Homo sapiens: one gene and its partners. The protein of the gene in region 3 purifies or fractionates together with the protein of the main gene of each other region. This does not show direct contact. Each region holds a gene or a part of one and is shown on either strand. Other genes may lie near its edges.

Region 1 (3,500 bases), on a different chromosome or scaffold from region 3:
CAGTTACTTACTTATTAAAAAAAAAAGTTCACTTATCAGAAAGGGGGTGAGTCTATTTTACATAGCACAAGCATTATAATATTCTAATTATCAAACATTGCAACTAAATCAATTCTGAGAAAGGAATTCTAACCCACTACCACCAGACAACTCTAAGCATTATAACATCACATACTCACAAATCGAATTCTACAGTCTAGTAGACTACTACCTCCTAGAACCAAGCACATTAGCAAGACGCTTTTTATAATACAGTTCTAACATCAGACTGCAGAAGAAATATTTATATATTAATATTTTAAATATATATTTAAAAGGCAAAATTTTATCATCAGATAGTAGCCAAATTACCAAAGCTTTCTGTACTTGCTGTTGGTAGCCACTTGAGGAAAATTACTTACTTATGTATGTAACAGATGCAAAACACACGTCCAGGAACCTGAATAGCCAGGATTCTGGTATGCCCATTAGAGGAAACAAGGACACCGTTTAGCATCTGAATTTATACTGTCTAAACGTCTAGGAGGAGAAAGGCAAGAAGCAGCACATCTTGAGCTATCTTCTTTTTTTTCAACAGATATTTTCAGATAAATATATAATTCTACCCTATAATTTCATAACAAAATTAACCCTAAAGTAAAATAAAATATTTCCTCAACAGATCACGTAACAGCAAAGCAGGGAAGGGAGGGGTAGAAAGCTGGTTTTAGGAGTAAACAGATGTCATCTATGTTATTTAGTAGGTTTTCTGTTTGTTTGTTTTTGAGACCCTGGCTGGAGTGCAATGGCACAATCGTGGCTCTCTGCAACCTCCACCTCCTGGGTTCAAGCAATTCTCCAGCCTCAGCCTCCTGAGTAGCTGGGATTACAGGCACGCGCCACCATGCCTGGCTCATTTTATATTTTTAGTAGAGACGCGGTTTCTCCATATTGGTCAGGCTGGTCTTGAACTCCTGACCTCAGGTGATCTGCCCGACACAGCCTCCCAAAGTGCTAGGATTATAGGCGTAAGCCACCCCGCCGTTATTTAGTAGGTTTTTTTTTTTTTTTTGAGATGGAGTCTCACTCTGTCACCCAGGCTGAAGTGCAGTGGTGTGATCTCTGCTCACTGCAAGCTCCGCCTCCTGGGTTCATGCCATTCTCCTGCCTCAGCCTCCCGAGTAATTGGGACTACAGGCGCCCACCACCACACCCGGCTAATTTTTTGTATTTTTAGTAGAGATGAGGTTTCATTGTGTTAGCCAGGATGGTCTCGATCTCCTGACCTCGTGATCCACCCATCTCGGCCTCCCAAAGTGCTGGATTACAGGTGTGAGCCACCGCACCCGGCCTATTTAGTAAGTTTTAAAAGACATGATGATGATACGGGAAAGAATCTACTGCAGGAGGCCAGGAACTTTGAGGACAGAAAGAAAAAGAAAGAGCCTAGTCCACACTATGGATCTCTCTTGGCTTGGAAGTCAGGGTAAATGTCAAGTTGGATTGCTGCTTCTATGCTTTCTCAGCCAAATAACAGTTCCAAACTTGGTTTAACCTATTAAACCACCAATTCCTCCCATACTAGAGCAATAAAGTTCTACCCCAAGATGAAGGCCTATTCACCTGCACTGTAATTACCCACACAGGGGCCCTTCCCTGTTTGGACAATGTAAATCAATTATCTCTCATAGAACAAAATTCTTTAAGTTCATTTCAGAGTTGGCTGCTCAGAAACAGGCCCCCTAATTGGCAAGAATAGCTGCTAGAAGGGTGATTCATTCTGAGTGACTCACAACCAACTCAGTAGGTCTGTGTCATTTTAGGGGGCATTGCAAGTGACAGTTTAGTATCATCTGCTGTACTTCTTCTAGCAAGTCCCTACTCCCAGAGATGACGTTGAAGAGCTCACTAACCTGTATCCAGAATGCCAATTGAAACACCGAAGATAGACATCATGACAGTGAGTAATATTGCTGTCTTGCAAAAAGGAACAAGATAAAGACCAACGGTGGTAGCCGACATTGAGATTCCTGGGAAGGTAGAAACTCAGCTATAAAAAATAATATCCATGCAGTCATGGATCAAGTCAATATCATAAATGTCCAAACATGCAAAATCAGGTCAAATTTAAATTAGATAATGAGTAGATGAGAGTTTTTGCTTCTAAAAGTGATTATTTCATTTGAATCTTTTATAATCTTTATGGATTATGAAATATAAATAATTATAACACAAATACATTTAAAGCACTGCTAGTAATCAAACTGTAAATTATACCATAAGGCAAAGTTTTATACCAAAAGAGACAAGCCAAAACTAATTTAAATGATTCACATTTAAGAACCTAACAGGAATTTTTAGACATGAGGCAAAAAATTAAATAGACAAAAATAAAATGCAATTACTAGAGTAGTTTGTAATAAAATTTACTAAATAAATTAGTTTGGGAAATAGGGAGGAAAATACAAGAAATATGTTATTTCAACCCACTTTGGAAATAAGAGGGATTATTTATTAATTCCTTAACAATAACAAATTATTCTTGCTTCCAAAACAATTTTATCATATTAATCTAAATTTTCTCTAAATATTTCAATTTATTCAAAAAAAGTATATGCTAAAAGCTTTGCCAGCCCAGGCGTGGTGGCTCACACCTGTAATCCCAATACTCTGGGAGGCTGATCCTTTGAGCTCAGGAGTTCCAGACCAACCTGGGCAACATGGTGAAACCCCGGCTCTACTAAAAACACAAAAATTAATCAGGCATGGTGGCTCACACCTGTGGTCCCAGTTAATTGGAAGGCTGAGATGGGAGGATCGCTTGAGCCCAGGAGGGGGAGGTTGCAGTGAGCAGAGATCGCATCACTGCACTCCAGCCTGGGCAATAGAGGGAGAGGAGACCCTGTCTCAAAAAAAAAAAGCAGCTTTGCCATCTATTTCCAGGGTGAGACAGAGCACTCTGGGGTTGTCCAACGACAACATGGGGCAGCAGGAACAAAAACATAGCCTACATCAGTCCACCCAACCTCGCTTCCCCTCTTCATTCCCAATCCAGGGTGTAGCCTGGGCAGGTTCAAAGAGCTCATTCTGATCTGTGGTGACCCCAGGAAATCTGCCCTAAACCCTCTAAGCAGAGTTTTTTGGACAACCAGTGTGTGATCCAGGAGTGGTAGCTAAATTATAGTGGTTGGAAAGGCTAAGGATTGCTAAGACACTCTAGAGCTAATCTAAATTTCCAGAGGGACCCAGCACAGATACCCTCTAACTGTCAAGATGAAAGCAGGTACCAGGGAAACTCAACTGCCATTGAGGACACCTAAACACTACCCATTTCAGTGGCCAACCATTCTGCATGCTAGTATTTTCATATTTTCAAAGACAACTTGTAAATTCACTTGACAGTCATAAAGAAGCTAAAATTAGCATTTACTTACCCAAAAGTAAAAAATAATTCATGACATCGACAAGAAATCCACCAATCACAGAGCCACTCAAATATCCCAAGGCACGACCCACAAAAA
Region 2 (4,184 bases), on a different chromosome or scaffold from region 3:
AGCTGCACACAGGAGCCGAGCAACCCCCGGACTGCTGGGTAGGCGATTTCGGAGATGTAGACCTGCCAGCAATCAGATGAGGATTTATGGCTGGGCGCAGTGGCTCATGCCTGCAATCCCAGCACTCTGGGAGGCCGAGGCGGGCAGATCACCAGAGGTTGGGAGTTTGAGACTGGCCTGACCAACAGGGAGAAACCCCATCTCTACTAAAAATACAAAATTAGCTGGGCCTAGTGGCACACATCTGTAATCCCAGCTACTCAGGAGGTTGAGGGAGGAGAATCACTTGAACCCTGGAGGTGGAGGTTGCGGTGAGCCAAGATCCCACCATTGCACTCCAGCCTGGGCAACAAGAGCGAAACTCCGAAATTTTTAAATAAAAATTAAAAAAAAAAAAAAAAAGATGAGGCTTTACTCAGGCTCCAAGAGTTCTTAAAATGGAAAGGTCTCAGCCATTCAGAGCTGAGGAAAGTCCTTGCAGGGGGTTACGGCAGGCCCTGAAGCCCCTTAGTGGAACCTGCCTAGGTGAGCAGAGCCATCCCCAGGTCCCCACCACTGAAAGATCTGTGGCAGGTGTTTAAAGGGGATTAAGGGTAACGGAGAGGGCTGCATATGATGACGAGAGGCGGTGGGCACAGAGCTTCTCAAGCCTTCGTTTAATGTGCACAGACACCCTGGATAAATCATAGATTCCGATGCAGTAGGTCTGGACAGGCGAAAGATTCCACCTTGTTAACCAGCTCCACGTGACGCCCACCCAGGATCCTAGCCCAGGGCCCACGCTTTGAGTGGTGGCCTTGGACTAGAAGCACGAACTCTCTGCCTCGGTCACTACCAGTGGCTGCCACTAGCTCCCTCCTGGGCCCACAGGCCACCAGGCCCTCACCCATGCATCTAAGGTTATTCCATAGCTTAGGCCCCTAACACAGGTGTGTTTCTGCCCAGTTAAAAAAACCAAAGACATAAAAGGCCCAGCTTCTTCCCCACCCTCTTCTGGTCCAGCTGCTGCTGCCGGTTAGCAAACGTTGGTGAAATGAGCACCCAGGGAGGGGCCTGAGTGGCTGCTTTCAACCTCACTTGGGGGAGATATTGTCCAAGCCCATGGCTGGGGGCAGTTCATGGGTCACCAAGCTGTCAGGATCCAGTCCTCTACAAGCCATGCCAGGGGCTGTCTATCCAAAGTCCCACTGAATCCTGACCACTACCTCAGGGGCTAATGCCATAATCCCTGTTTTCCAGAGAAGGAAACTGAGGCCCAGGGAGGCACTCTGCTCAGGTTAGTGGCAGAACCAGGATTTGACCCAGATGTTCGGGGCTCCCAAGTGGGCAGCCTGGGTCAGGAGGGGGAAAGGGGGAAGATGGGGAAGCCAGAGGGGCTGGCCTGTGAGAAGGGAAGGGGAACACAGAGGCCAGCAGCCTTTGCCCCAAGAGAAATCAGGACAGGAACTTCCTGCTAATTGCAGTCATTGACCCGAAGCCAGGGATGAAAACCAAAATGTAGGGAGTGGGCTCCTGTGGATCATCCGCAGGTTTGCAGAGCAAAAGAGGGGCACGGCTAAGTGGGACAACCCTGGGTTCCTGCAACTGCTTCCCCTCTGACTAGCTGTGGACCTCGCCTGGGCAAAGGACTTCACCTTTCCGAGACTGCATGTCATGACCTCAGTGTAAAATGGAGAGAACAGTAGGATCCTTCCCAGGGTCGACGGGAGGGACCGCGAGATAACGCAGGGACTTCAAGCCTGGCACCCAGAAGGTCCCGCCAGGGGGAGCCGCGCCCCCAGGCCTGGGGAGCGGTTTGTCCCACTCCCCCTCGGTCTCAGGCCGCGAGACAGGACACTCGAGAGACGGGACACTCACCGGGGCCACTAGGGAGGCAACACCGCAGGCCAGGCCGGTGAGGAGGCGGCCCCCCAGCAGCATCCACACGTCCTGGGCCGCGGTGATGACGGCAAAGCCGGCCACGAAGGGCACGGAGCACAGCAAGAGGCTCAGCTTGCGCCCGGCGCGGTCCACCAGCCAGCCGCCCAGCACTCCCCCCGCCGCGGCACCCAGGGTCACGACAGCCTGGAGGCGGGCGGCTGCTGAGGAGGGGGCGCCGAAGCCGCAGCCCATCCTCCCCCTCCACCCACTCCCCGCGGGCTCAGAGGTAAAAGAGCCGGGGCCCCGCGCCCGTCCCGAGGGGAGGGGTAGGGGGCTGAGGGGCCCGGTGCTCGTCCCGAGGGGAGGGGTGGGGGCTGAGGGGCTCGATGCCCGTCCCGAGGGAAGGGATGGGGGGCAGAGAGGCCCAATGCCTGTCTCGTGGGGAAAGGTGGTGGCGGCGGGGCCCGATGCCTGTCCCGAGGGGAAGGGTGGGGGGCGGAGGGTCCCGATGCCCGTCCCGAGAGGAGGGCGTGGGGTCCCAGGGCGGGAGGAGCGAGCCCGGGGCCTCACCCCGAACCAGGAGGCGGCGGCGTCGTCCAGGCGCGGGGCCGGGGGCGCGGCGCGCTGCAGGCTAGGGATGGCCGGGGAGCTGTAGCCGAGCGCGAAGCCGAAGCTGAGTGGGCCCAGGGCAGCGGCGAAGGCGGCGAGGAAGACGCGGCGGCCGCGGGGCGCGCTGGGGGGACAGGGCCGAGGGTGAGCGGAGCGGACGCGGAGGGGCGGGAGGGCGAGGCCGCATCCGGGCCCGGGTTCCCCGGAGCTCACCTGCCGCCAGGAGGCCCCAGAAGCGGCTGGGTTTCCTCTGGGTCCTCGGGCGTCATGTCGGCGGCCAACGCCGATCGGCCAGCTCTGGCGCCTGAACCGCCACGGGCCCTGCGAGTGCGGCCCGCACCGGCCTCTCGCAGCCAATGGGCGGCGGGGGGTGGGGGACGGTGCTGGGCGGGATCGGAACCGCAGAGCAGGAGCAGCCAATAGGAACGCAAGGCGGGGCTAGCGAATCAGCTAGGACCCGCCCTTCACATTAAAGCAGACCAATGGGAGCATAGAACCGATTAGCGAAGCGCGCTGGAACCGCCCCTAGGGCGGAGCGGTCCAAGGTACAGGTGGGGCGGAGTTTCCGTCTGGGAGAACAACCACCCAATTGGAGTGTAGTGCGAGCCCATAGACGGGGCCAGAGAGCTGCCTCAGAACTGAGCTGGCCAATGAGGTTGGAGGGAGGAGTTTTTTTTCTGGCACCTCCTCTCAATCTGGCTTCAACCAATGAGGGTAGAGGCGGGGCGAAGGCGAAGCACGTGGGCCTCAGCCCGAGACTTCCCGCCCCCAACTCCGAGAAGCTGCACCTGTCCTGCCCGGTCGGGTCTGCAGTTCCTGCTCCGCTTTAATCGCTGCCCTGGGGACTGTATTGGAGGCGTCTGACCTATGCCTGGGCCCAGCTCTGCAGGGGAGAGAGCCTCTAAGCAGACCGTCCTGGGCCGCCTCTCTCTCCTCTCGGAGGGCGAGACTGGTCAGACGCTCCCGCTGGGCTGCTGGCGGCGGAGGCGTGGCCCTGTGCACCGAAACCCACTTTCATGCTTCCCAGATTGCTGAAGGCTCGGGTCTCCAGGTGCTGAGGACCAGTGGTAGGTGGGGTCCCCCACGCCGTATGTGTGACAGATCTGGGCTCCACTCCCCCTCTTAAGTGTCACTCACTTCACAGGGAGTCCTGACTCTTGAATCTTCATCTACCTGCCTCCATATTTTGAGTTCCCTGTGGATTTTAATGCCACCTTCTCCCGTGTGCACCCAAGTCGAATGATGAGGCACTGTTGGATCTCACCAGTTGTACCCGATTCATACCCAACACTCTGGGTGCAGGCAGCTGTGGTGGAATGCTGGTGTAATTCTGGAAAGAGCCAGGGCATGGGAGTAAGAGGCTTGGCTTGTAATCCCTCTCTGGGCCTTGTGTTTCCTCATCTCTAAGTGGGGATGACCATTATCTTCCAGGAGAGTTGTGAAGCAAGGTAATGTATATAAGACATGTGAAGCACTCAAAGGCTAACCGGTATGATGAAGACAGTCATCTGATATGTTGCAGTCACTTGATGGTTCTAGCAACCAACATTTTTCAGTCCTGACCACAAGCCTATCCTTAAAGACTTAGGCAACTGCCCTTCTGTACTCCCACAGCATCTAATGCTTGATAACTCGAGCACTAGATGTGTATTCTTATCACAGCATTTATCACTGCTTTGTGATCCCTTGTTTACTTCCGTCCTTCCCCCAATGGA
Region 3 (3,500 bases):
GAGGCTGAGGCAGGTAGATCACAAGGTCAGGAGTTCGAGACCAGCCTGGCCAATATGGGTGAAACTCCGTCTTTACTAAAAAATACAAAAATTAGCTGGGCGTGGTGGCGCGCGCCTGTAGTCCCAGCTACTCAGGAGGCTGAGGCAGGAGAATCACTTGAACCCGGGAGACGGAGGTTGCAGTGAGCTGAGATTGCGCCATTGCACTCCAACCTGGGCAACAGAGTGAGATTCCATCTCAAAAAAAAAAAAAAAAAAAAAAAAAAAGATAGTGCCAACTCAGCAAAAGCCAAACAGTCCAACCTTCCCCAACTAAGAAAAGCTGATAATGGTGGCAGGATTCTCTGCCCAAAGGAGACCCTCAAGTCTGTCTACTCGTGTGTGTGTACGTGTGTGTGTGCGTACACACGTTATTATTATTGTTAATGACCAGTTGAAGAAGCCATATAAAGTAGGAAGGTAGTACCCATCAACTGTAAAAATCAAACACTGCAATATCGTGAAGAGATTCCTGTCATTTAATTAGATTTGCCACAAAAAGCAATAACCTTAGCTAACCACGCTGCTCTCCTCCTCCACCTAACCCCCATCTCCCTTCATATGCACAAACACAGGAACCCAAAGCCCCTCCTCCCCACAATCCTCCCCACTCACATTATGGGAAGAAATGTCACTAAATGGACTTGGCCTCCTCCATATAGCACGGAACAGGTGAATAAAAATATCTTTATGAAGAATTTTGTTGTGCTATTATCTTAGGGTTGAATCAGGGCCAAGATGGAGGCAGAGGCAAGTGAGGTCTGGGGATCTCTTAGAGATCAGAATTTGTCTGAGAGGCACAGAGCCTATAGTTCACCCAGAAAGGGGGATATATCTAAGAGGACAGGGGCTAGAACTGGCTAGGCTGAAAGTTTTTTCAAGTGTATGTGTGAGGGTAAGGGTAGCTATAAATCCATTCTCTTTCCTCCCCCATACCTTCCCTAGCTCCCAGATAGAAGGGCAGGGGACCCTGAACAGGGAACAGAGTCACAATTCCCTCAAGTTTCATCTGATTCCCACAGAGCTTCCAGCAGGCAGTGAGTTGGGCATATCCCCTGGTGCTGCATGACCCCTTCCCCCAGCTCAGGGCTTCTTCTCTCCACCTGTGAGCACCAGGGCCTGCAGGATGTCAGACAGTGATACAATTCCCTTGACCACATCATTTTCATCCACCACTACAAGTCGGTGAACCTGGCACAGAGCAACAAGGGAGAAAGGGAATGTTTAGTGCTGGCCTCAGGGGAAGCCCCTCTGCCCCTACTCTCCTTGCCAAACCCCACTCTCAAGGCTGCTCCCCTCAGCTCCTTTAGGGTTGCTGGCCTCCCTACCTCTGCTTCCACTAGCCTGTTGATGATGGTCTCCAGAGTCTCATGCAGGTAGCACTTGAGAACACCCTCAAAGTAATGTGATCGATGTTGCAAGGCTTTAGTCACAGATACATCTAGGTTGTTGTAGGTCTTTTCTGCTGCCAGATTCTGGGGAGACAGAGGAAGGAGCTTGCAGGGAAGCAAGAGAGCCAGCCTCCAAACCCTGAACCCATCCAACCTCAACAGAGGGATTCAGGGCAATTGTCAGCCACAAGCCACACCCAACTCATTCAATTCCTTTTCAAATAGGATTTGAAAGCCTGGAAGCTTCTAAGACCCTTAGATCACAGAAGAGACTCCCTTCTCCCTCTCCATATTTAACAGTGCCCCCCCCCCACCACTTCCCTACCTCCCAGACCCTCCACAATCACTCACGATAACATCAAACTTGGAGTAGATGTCCACCACACGCCCTAGGGGGACAGAGGCAGCTCAGTAAGGAGGATCTGGGATCTAAAGCTCCCCCTACTCATAGAATCACCCTCCTGGCTAAGCTGAGGGGAAAGCAGATCTTCCCAGAGCCACCCTGACTTGCCTGGATCTTCCCTCCCTCTCCTTCTGCCCAATCTCTCACCCTTCTCATCCACCACTGGCAGGGCTGAGACTCGATGCTGTACAAAAATCCCCAGAGCCACATAGACGGGGGTGGTAGTGCGAACCATAGCAATATTGGCATAGGTGCCAATCTGTAGCTCTTCCAGAGACTTGGACATGAACTCTGGCTTGGGGAACTCAGTGATCTGAGGAAAGAACCATCAGCTTAACTTTCAAGGCACCCAAAGCCACCCTTGGATACCCCCTCCAACCCAGTATATTAGAAATAAGGGCTGGGTGCGCCGGCTTATGCCTATAATCCCAGCACTTTGGGAGGCTGAGGGGGACATATTGCTTGAGCCCAGGAGTTCGAGACCAGCCTGGGCAACATGGCAAAACCCTATCTCTATAAAAAATACCAAAAAATTAGCCAGGTGTGGTGGTACACACGTGTAGTCCCAGCTCTTCTGGGGGTTGAGGTCGGGGGTCACCTGAGACCAAGAGGTTGGAGGCTGCAGTGAGCCATGATAGCGCCTCTGCACGCCAGCCTGGGCAACAGAGTAAGAACTTGTCTCAAAATAAATTAATAAATAAATAAGAAGTGGGGCTGGATGCAGTGGCTCACACCTGTAATCCTAGCACTTTGGGAGGCTGAGGCGGGAGGATCACTTGAGCTCAGGAGTTTGACACTAGCCTGAGCAACACAGTGAGACCTCGTCTCTCTTTTCAATCAATCAATCAATCAATCAATGAAAAAAGAGAAAAAAGAACTGGGCTGAGGAGCACTTACAAACAATTTGAGGAACTTCAGAATGCGCTTGTGGGTGAGGATGTACAAAGTATTGCCTGATTCTGGGTCAATAACTGGCAGCCTGTGGATCTTGTTCCGAATTAATGAAGAGACAGCATCAAACAAGCTGTGAGAGGGTGGGAGATAATAAGTTCCACAGTGCTGGGGCTGGGGGTGATTAAACAGGTCCATACAGTGTATTGCTCAACAGGGAAAACTGATGGTTAGGGAAGGGGGGCAGTGTACAGGCCAGACTTAAAGAGAAAGAGAGAGAGAGAGAGAGTGAGAATGAGAGAGAGAGAGAGACTGTGTGTGTGTGTGTGTGTGTGTGTGTGTGTGTGTGTGTGTGTGTGTGTCTTTTCTCTCTTCTTCCCCTTTCCCTGGGTGTCTAGGGCATTAGCTAGGCTGATGACAAAATCTCTTCCGCTTTTTGGACAGATGGGTAACTGGAACTCACCTGGCATTAGGAGAAATGCAGACAAGCGGTTTAAAGGAGTCCTGGAGATACACCTCTGAAGGGAAAAGGGATGGGTCACAAAATACCACCATGGAAAAGTGTTTCCCAGAAACCCGCCATCCCTTTATCCTTTTATAACCCCAATTCTCTACATACCTCTCCAAGTTTCTATCTTGTGTTCTTCTAGCTCATAGATCTGTACCTGAAAGCAGAAGCAACAGAATTTGAGACCTGATCTCTCTGCTTCCTTAAGCCCTCGTGGCTTGCTTGGAGAAAAAGAAATGAGAATGAGGGATTTAGGGCAGGGAAAGTG
Region 4 (3,991 bases), on a different chromosome or scaffold from region 3:
CACGGCACCAGCTGCTTCCTGTGGAAGGGAGGGGCAGTCTGTGGGGGTTGTGACGGTTCCCTGGTCTCAGGGGCAGCAGAAGCTTTCTGTCCTTTTGGTCCCTAGCACAGTGGTGCCTCCTCAAAGAGGCCTTCCCTGAGCCGCCAGCAGCCTCTTTCATGGCTCCCCATCAATGGGGTTCCATAGCTCCGACCCCAGCGGCGTGAGCACATTTGCCATCCGACGGCCACTCCCTGCTTTGTGGTCCCTGCTGTGTCCCCAGTATTCAGCTCTGGTCTGGCACACAGCATGTCCAGGGCCCTCTTTGTCCAAGGCAAGAAAGAATTTGAGGCTGCGTCCAGGCCTCTTGCACCTGCCTCAGGCTCCCGCCCAGAGCCTCTACCTGTGCCCCAGCGAGCATTCTCTGCTCGCTGCTCAGAATGCTCGCAAAGGCCGGCCCTGGGGTCAGAGGCCTCCACAGCCCCTGGAGCTGGGAAGCCTGGGGGTCCACCGGCAGGCACGGGGGTCTCTTTCCAGGTAGGTGGGAACGCGTGCTTGTGGGTGTGGACAGGTGTCTGCACTGGGGTTTGTCTGTGTGTCTGTCTCCACTCACACCGGGGATGTATGTGCCCCTGCGTGTCTGTCTCTGGTGCCCACCTGTGTGCAGTCTCTGTGTTCTGCCTAACGGTGGTGTTCCCGTGATAACCGACGGTGAGGATCTCCGGTAAGCGCCGCTTCCTCTGGGAAGACGCATTTGGACGCCCGTACTCTCAACAGGTAATGGAGTTTGCAGGAGACCACCAATGCCTTGGAGTCCACTGAGGCAAGACCCAAGGACCCCACGCTACACATCAGCCACCCGGCTCTGTGCCCCATTTTACTGTTGGGGAGACGCACCTAGAGGGCAGGGTCTGGAGAGGTAGTGGCAGCCTCAGTCGCAAGCTCAGGGTGCTCTCTCTGCACTCACAGGTGCCATGGTCCCCCAGTTTCCATCCCCACCCACCCCCACTCGGCCAGTGCCCTTTGGGGGCAATGCCAGGCCAGGAAGGGCGGGCACCCTCGCGCGTCCTGGGGACAGAAGGGCGCGCACCGGGCGCGTAGCTCCTGAGCCCCGAGGCCCCTGCGCCGCGCACCGCCCCCCGCGCCCGCTCCCTCCTCCCTCCCTCCTCCTCACCCAGCTCCCTCCCCTCCCCCCTCCCTCCCTCCGCGCTCAGAGCTGCGGTTGGAGCCGAGCGCGCCGCGTCGCCCGCCGCCGGTGCAGAGCGTGGGGAGCACTCGGCCGCAGCCCTCGCCCGCCGCAGAGGGTCGCGTCCCGCGCCGCCGGCCAGGCCGCCCCGTGCCCAGGCCTTTCCATCCTTGGAGCGGATCGTTGCCCGCCTGACGCCCGCCCGCAGCGACAGCGCCCGCCGGAGCCGAGGCCGCGGCGGCGGCCGTGCCCATGCCCGGGTAAGTGGTGCTCTGGGCGCGCGGGCGCCGCCGGGGTGGGCGCGGGCGCGGCGCGGGCACAAGGCGCGGGTGGGGATGGGAGGATGACCCGGCAGGTGGTGCGGCGGCAGGTAGGGGGACACGGGTCCCCGCCCGAGGCACCTGAGCCCCGCGCCGGGCCTGCGTGTCCTTGCGGCACTGCGGCCGCGCGTCACCCCGGGGCCCCAGGCCGGCGGGCAGCGCCCCGCACCCTGCACCCTGCGCCCCGCATCGCGCGCGCACGCGCATCCGTGTCTGAGGAACAAGGCCCTTGGGGGCTGCGGGCCGGGGCTCAGGGTGGGCGCAGCCGGGGGCGCGGGATCTGGGCCGGGAGCCCGCCAGTGCGCACGCACCTTCCCGGAGCCTCGGGCACCCCCTCCCCCCCGCGCCCTCACACTGTATCATCCTTCCCCTCTCGCCTTCCCGCACCGTTCCCCGCACGCCCACGCGGCTGCCCAGCAGACCCCACCGCGGTCATGGGCAGTGCCCACGAGAAGCCGCCCGGGGCCGCACTTAGGTAACTTCTCCATCCCTCCAGGAACGGCTGTCTCCCCCTCCTCGCCTGTGTGACCTTGGCCAGCCAGCTTTTCCTGTGGCCGCCTGCGTTTTCTCACGGGTGAAAGCTCTGGCTTTAAGATTCTGGAATTTGGAATGGCAGGTGCGGCATCTCCCAGAGCCTGAGACGATGGGCTTCTCTCTCTGTGACCTGGTGTCCTTCCTTCTGCTGGCCCTTCTGGGGGTTGGTGGCTCAGCCAGCCGGCTGAGGAGGGGTGGGAGGCAGGGCAGGGGCATGGCGCCGGGGCAGGTCAGGACTGGAGGGAGTCTTGGAGAGCCCGCGGTGAGGGCTCCATGAGGGTTTAGGAGAGACTGTGGAAATGCTCCTTCGCTCACTCAAGGGGCAGGGAAGGGACCAGAATTCCTCAACGAGATGCTTGCCATTTCCTGGCGAGGTCATATAACTTTCAAAGATGAAGCCCAGGGCCTCCGACCTCAAAGGAGTCCCTGCCTGCTAAAGGATCAAGTCCAGCCTGTCCCCAACTGGCCCCCATCCTGAATTCCACTGGCACCCTAAACGTCAGCCGACTTCCCCTGGCTGACTTGGGCACCAGTCTGGCAGGCACCCCCTGCACCTCCTCCCCTCCTTTGCCCACTAGGATCTGTGCCCTCACCCCCTGCCATTGCCCCTCACTAGTCAGTGACCATCTTAAGGCAAGGACTGGCTCTTCATTTGCACAGGCCTGGCACAGAGTGGGCACCTGGTTTCTGCATGGCATATTCATGACCTTGACCTCACTGAATCTGCAGACTCACTGAACAGGAGAGGCAAGGCCTGGATTTTTGTCCCCATTTTTCAGATGGGATCATTGAGGCCCCCAAGAGGAGAAGGGATTCAGCCCTGAATTGAGGCCCCTTCCTTCATGAGCAGATGGCTAGGGACATTCCTATGAACCTGGTGGGGCAGGGAGGCGGGGAGAGGTTATCGTAATAATCAAAGACCAGCCCCACTTCCTGAGCTCCATCTGAGTCTCACCTCAACCACACGAGTGAATGGCTGTTTTCATCCCCAACCCCCACCCCCCGCCGCCACTTTTCACAGATGAGGAAACCGAAGCCATGTGGCTCATTAAAGGGGCACTGGGATGCCGAGGAGAGGGCTGGGGATGCCTGGGCCCCTGTGGGACACAGCTGAGACCCAGCAGAGGGTCCCAGGGTGAGGTCAGCCCCTCAAGTCTGCGCCATCGGAACGGGCTGGGAACTTGTGGTCCCCGGCCATTGATTGTCACTGCTGCAGGCCCCGAGGCGGGGGACAGCCAAGGACACAGCCAGTCTCCATCAGCTCCACCTGGGCCGTGCCCTGCACGGCCAGGTGGTTTGAGTGCAGGAGTAGGCATGCTCTCACACAGCAGGGGGTAACGGGCAGATGGAAGTGGGGCGGGCGTGGGAGGGGGCCTTGCACAGGGCCAGAAGGAGAGCCGGTCCCTGAGGAAGGAAGCCCCTAAGGCAAAGAGCATGCCAGGGGACAGCCACAATGCCAGGTGATGGAGATGCCCCAATCGGCCCCCGAGGGGCAAGGAAGGGGCCAGAGGAGGCTCGTGAGGGTGCCTGGGGCTTCAGTGACAGCAGCCCCTTACCTGATGGTCTTTGTGACCTTGGCCAAGTCCCTTCTCCATTCCAGATCCAGGGAGGGTGGGGGTGGGCCTGGGGGAGCTGGAGCTTCAGAGGTTGAATCATTCACTAGCAGGAGAAGCCAAGCCTGTGAGTCAGTGAGTGCTCTCCATCCCAGAACGTCTGCTCCCAGCCCAGGGATGCAGCCACGGAGTGCCGGGGTCAGCCGTGGAGGACCCTCTGAGAATGTCTTGTGGAAAGGGGCGCCTTGCCTGCCCGGTAGACAGGATGAGGGCGCCCCAGAGCCCCAGGGGCTTCTGAGAGCTGAGTACCCTCTGGGCCTCTTGCAGCCAGCAGAGCCAGGCAGAGCTTCTTCTGGCCTTTTCACCTCCTCCCCCACCTCACAGAGCAAGTCATCAGCACATATGAACTCCCCTCTGAT

What was found. The genes of interacting proteins can lie anywhere in the genome.
Region 1: the proteins of PRKAG1 (region 3) and SLC60A2 purify together in Homo sapiens (affinity purification with mass spectrometry; 3 studies listed by BioGRID and IntAct, with this or other methods). This does not show direct contact.
Region 2: the proteins of PRKAG1 (region 3) and SLC2A8 purify together in Homo sapiens (affinity purification with mass spectrometry; 2 studies listed by BioGRID and IntAct, with this or other methods). This does not show direct contact.
Region 4: the proteins of PRKAG1 (region 3) and ATP2B3 purify together in Homo sapiens (affinity purification with mass spectrometry; 3 studies listed by BioGRID and IntAct, with this or other methods). This does not show direct contact.

Annotation. Positions count from the first base shown.
Region 1 is NC_000006.12:111,262,339-111,265,838, reverse strand, and holds part of SLC60A2 (sodium-dependent glucose transporter 1), read right to left. Parts: coding exon 3,414-3,500; intron 2,010-3,413; coding exon 1,893-2,009; intron 1-1,892. UniProt on the Homo sapiens protein: May function as a sodium-dependent glucose transporter. Potential channels for urea in the inner medulla of kidney.
Region 2 is NC_000009.12:127,395,785-127,399,968, reverse strand, and holds the start of SLC2A8 (solute carrier family 2, facilitated glucose transporter member 8), read right to left. Parts: upstream 2,801-4,184; 5' UTR 2,739-2,800; coding exon 2,683-2,738; intron 2,594-2,682; coding exon 2,431-2,593; coding exon of another isoform or gene 2,065-2,430; coding exon 1,858-2,064; intron 1,798-1,857; exon of another isoform or gene 1,656-1,797; coding exon of another isoform or gene 1,635-1,655; intron 63-1,634; coding exon 1-62.
Region 3 is NC_000012.12:49,001,777-49,005,276, forward strand, and holds the end of PRKAG1 (5'-AMP-activated protein kinase subunit gamma-1), read right to left. Parts: intron 3,390-3,500; coding exon 3,344-3,389; intron 3,243-3,343; coding exon 3,188-3,242; intron 2,858-3,187; coding exon 2,731-2,857; intron 2,147-2,730; coding exon 1,981-2,146; intron 1,820-1,980; coding exon 1,782-1,819; intron 1,515-1,781; coding exon 1,368-1,514; intron 1,231-1,367; coding exon 1,123-1,230; 3' UTR 498-1,122; downstream 1-497. UniProt on the Homo sapiens protein: AMP/ATP-binding subunit of AMP-activated protein kinase (AMPK), an energy sensor protein kinase that plays a key role in regulating cellular energy metabolism.
Region 4 is NC_000023.11:153,516,451-153,520,441, forward strand, and holds the start of ATP2B3 (plasma membrane calcium-transporting ATPase 3), read left to right. Parts: upstream 1-1,191; 5' UTR 1,192-1,425; intron 1,426-1,981; 5' UTR 1,982-2,101; intron 2,102-3,991. UniProt on the Homo sapiens protein: ATP-driven Ca(2+) ion pump involved in the maintenance of basal intracellular Ca(2+) levels at the presynaptic terminals. Uses ATP as an energy source to transport cytosolic Ca(2+) ions across the plasma membrane to the extracellular compartment.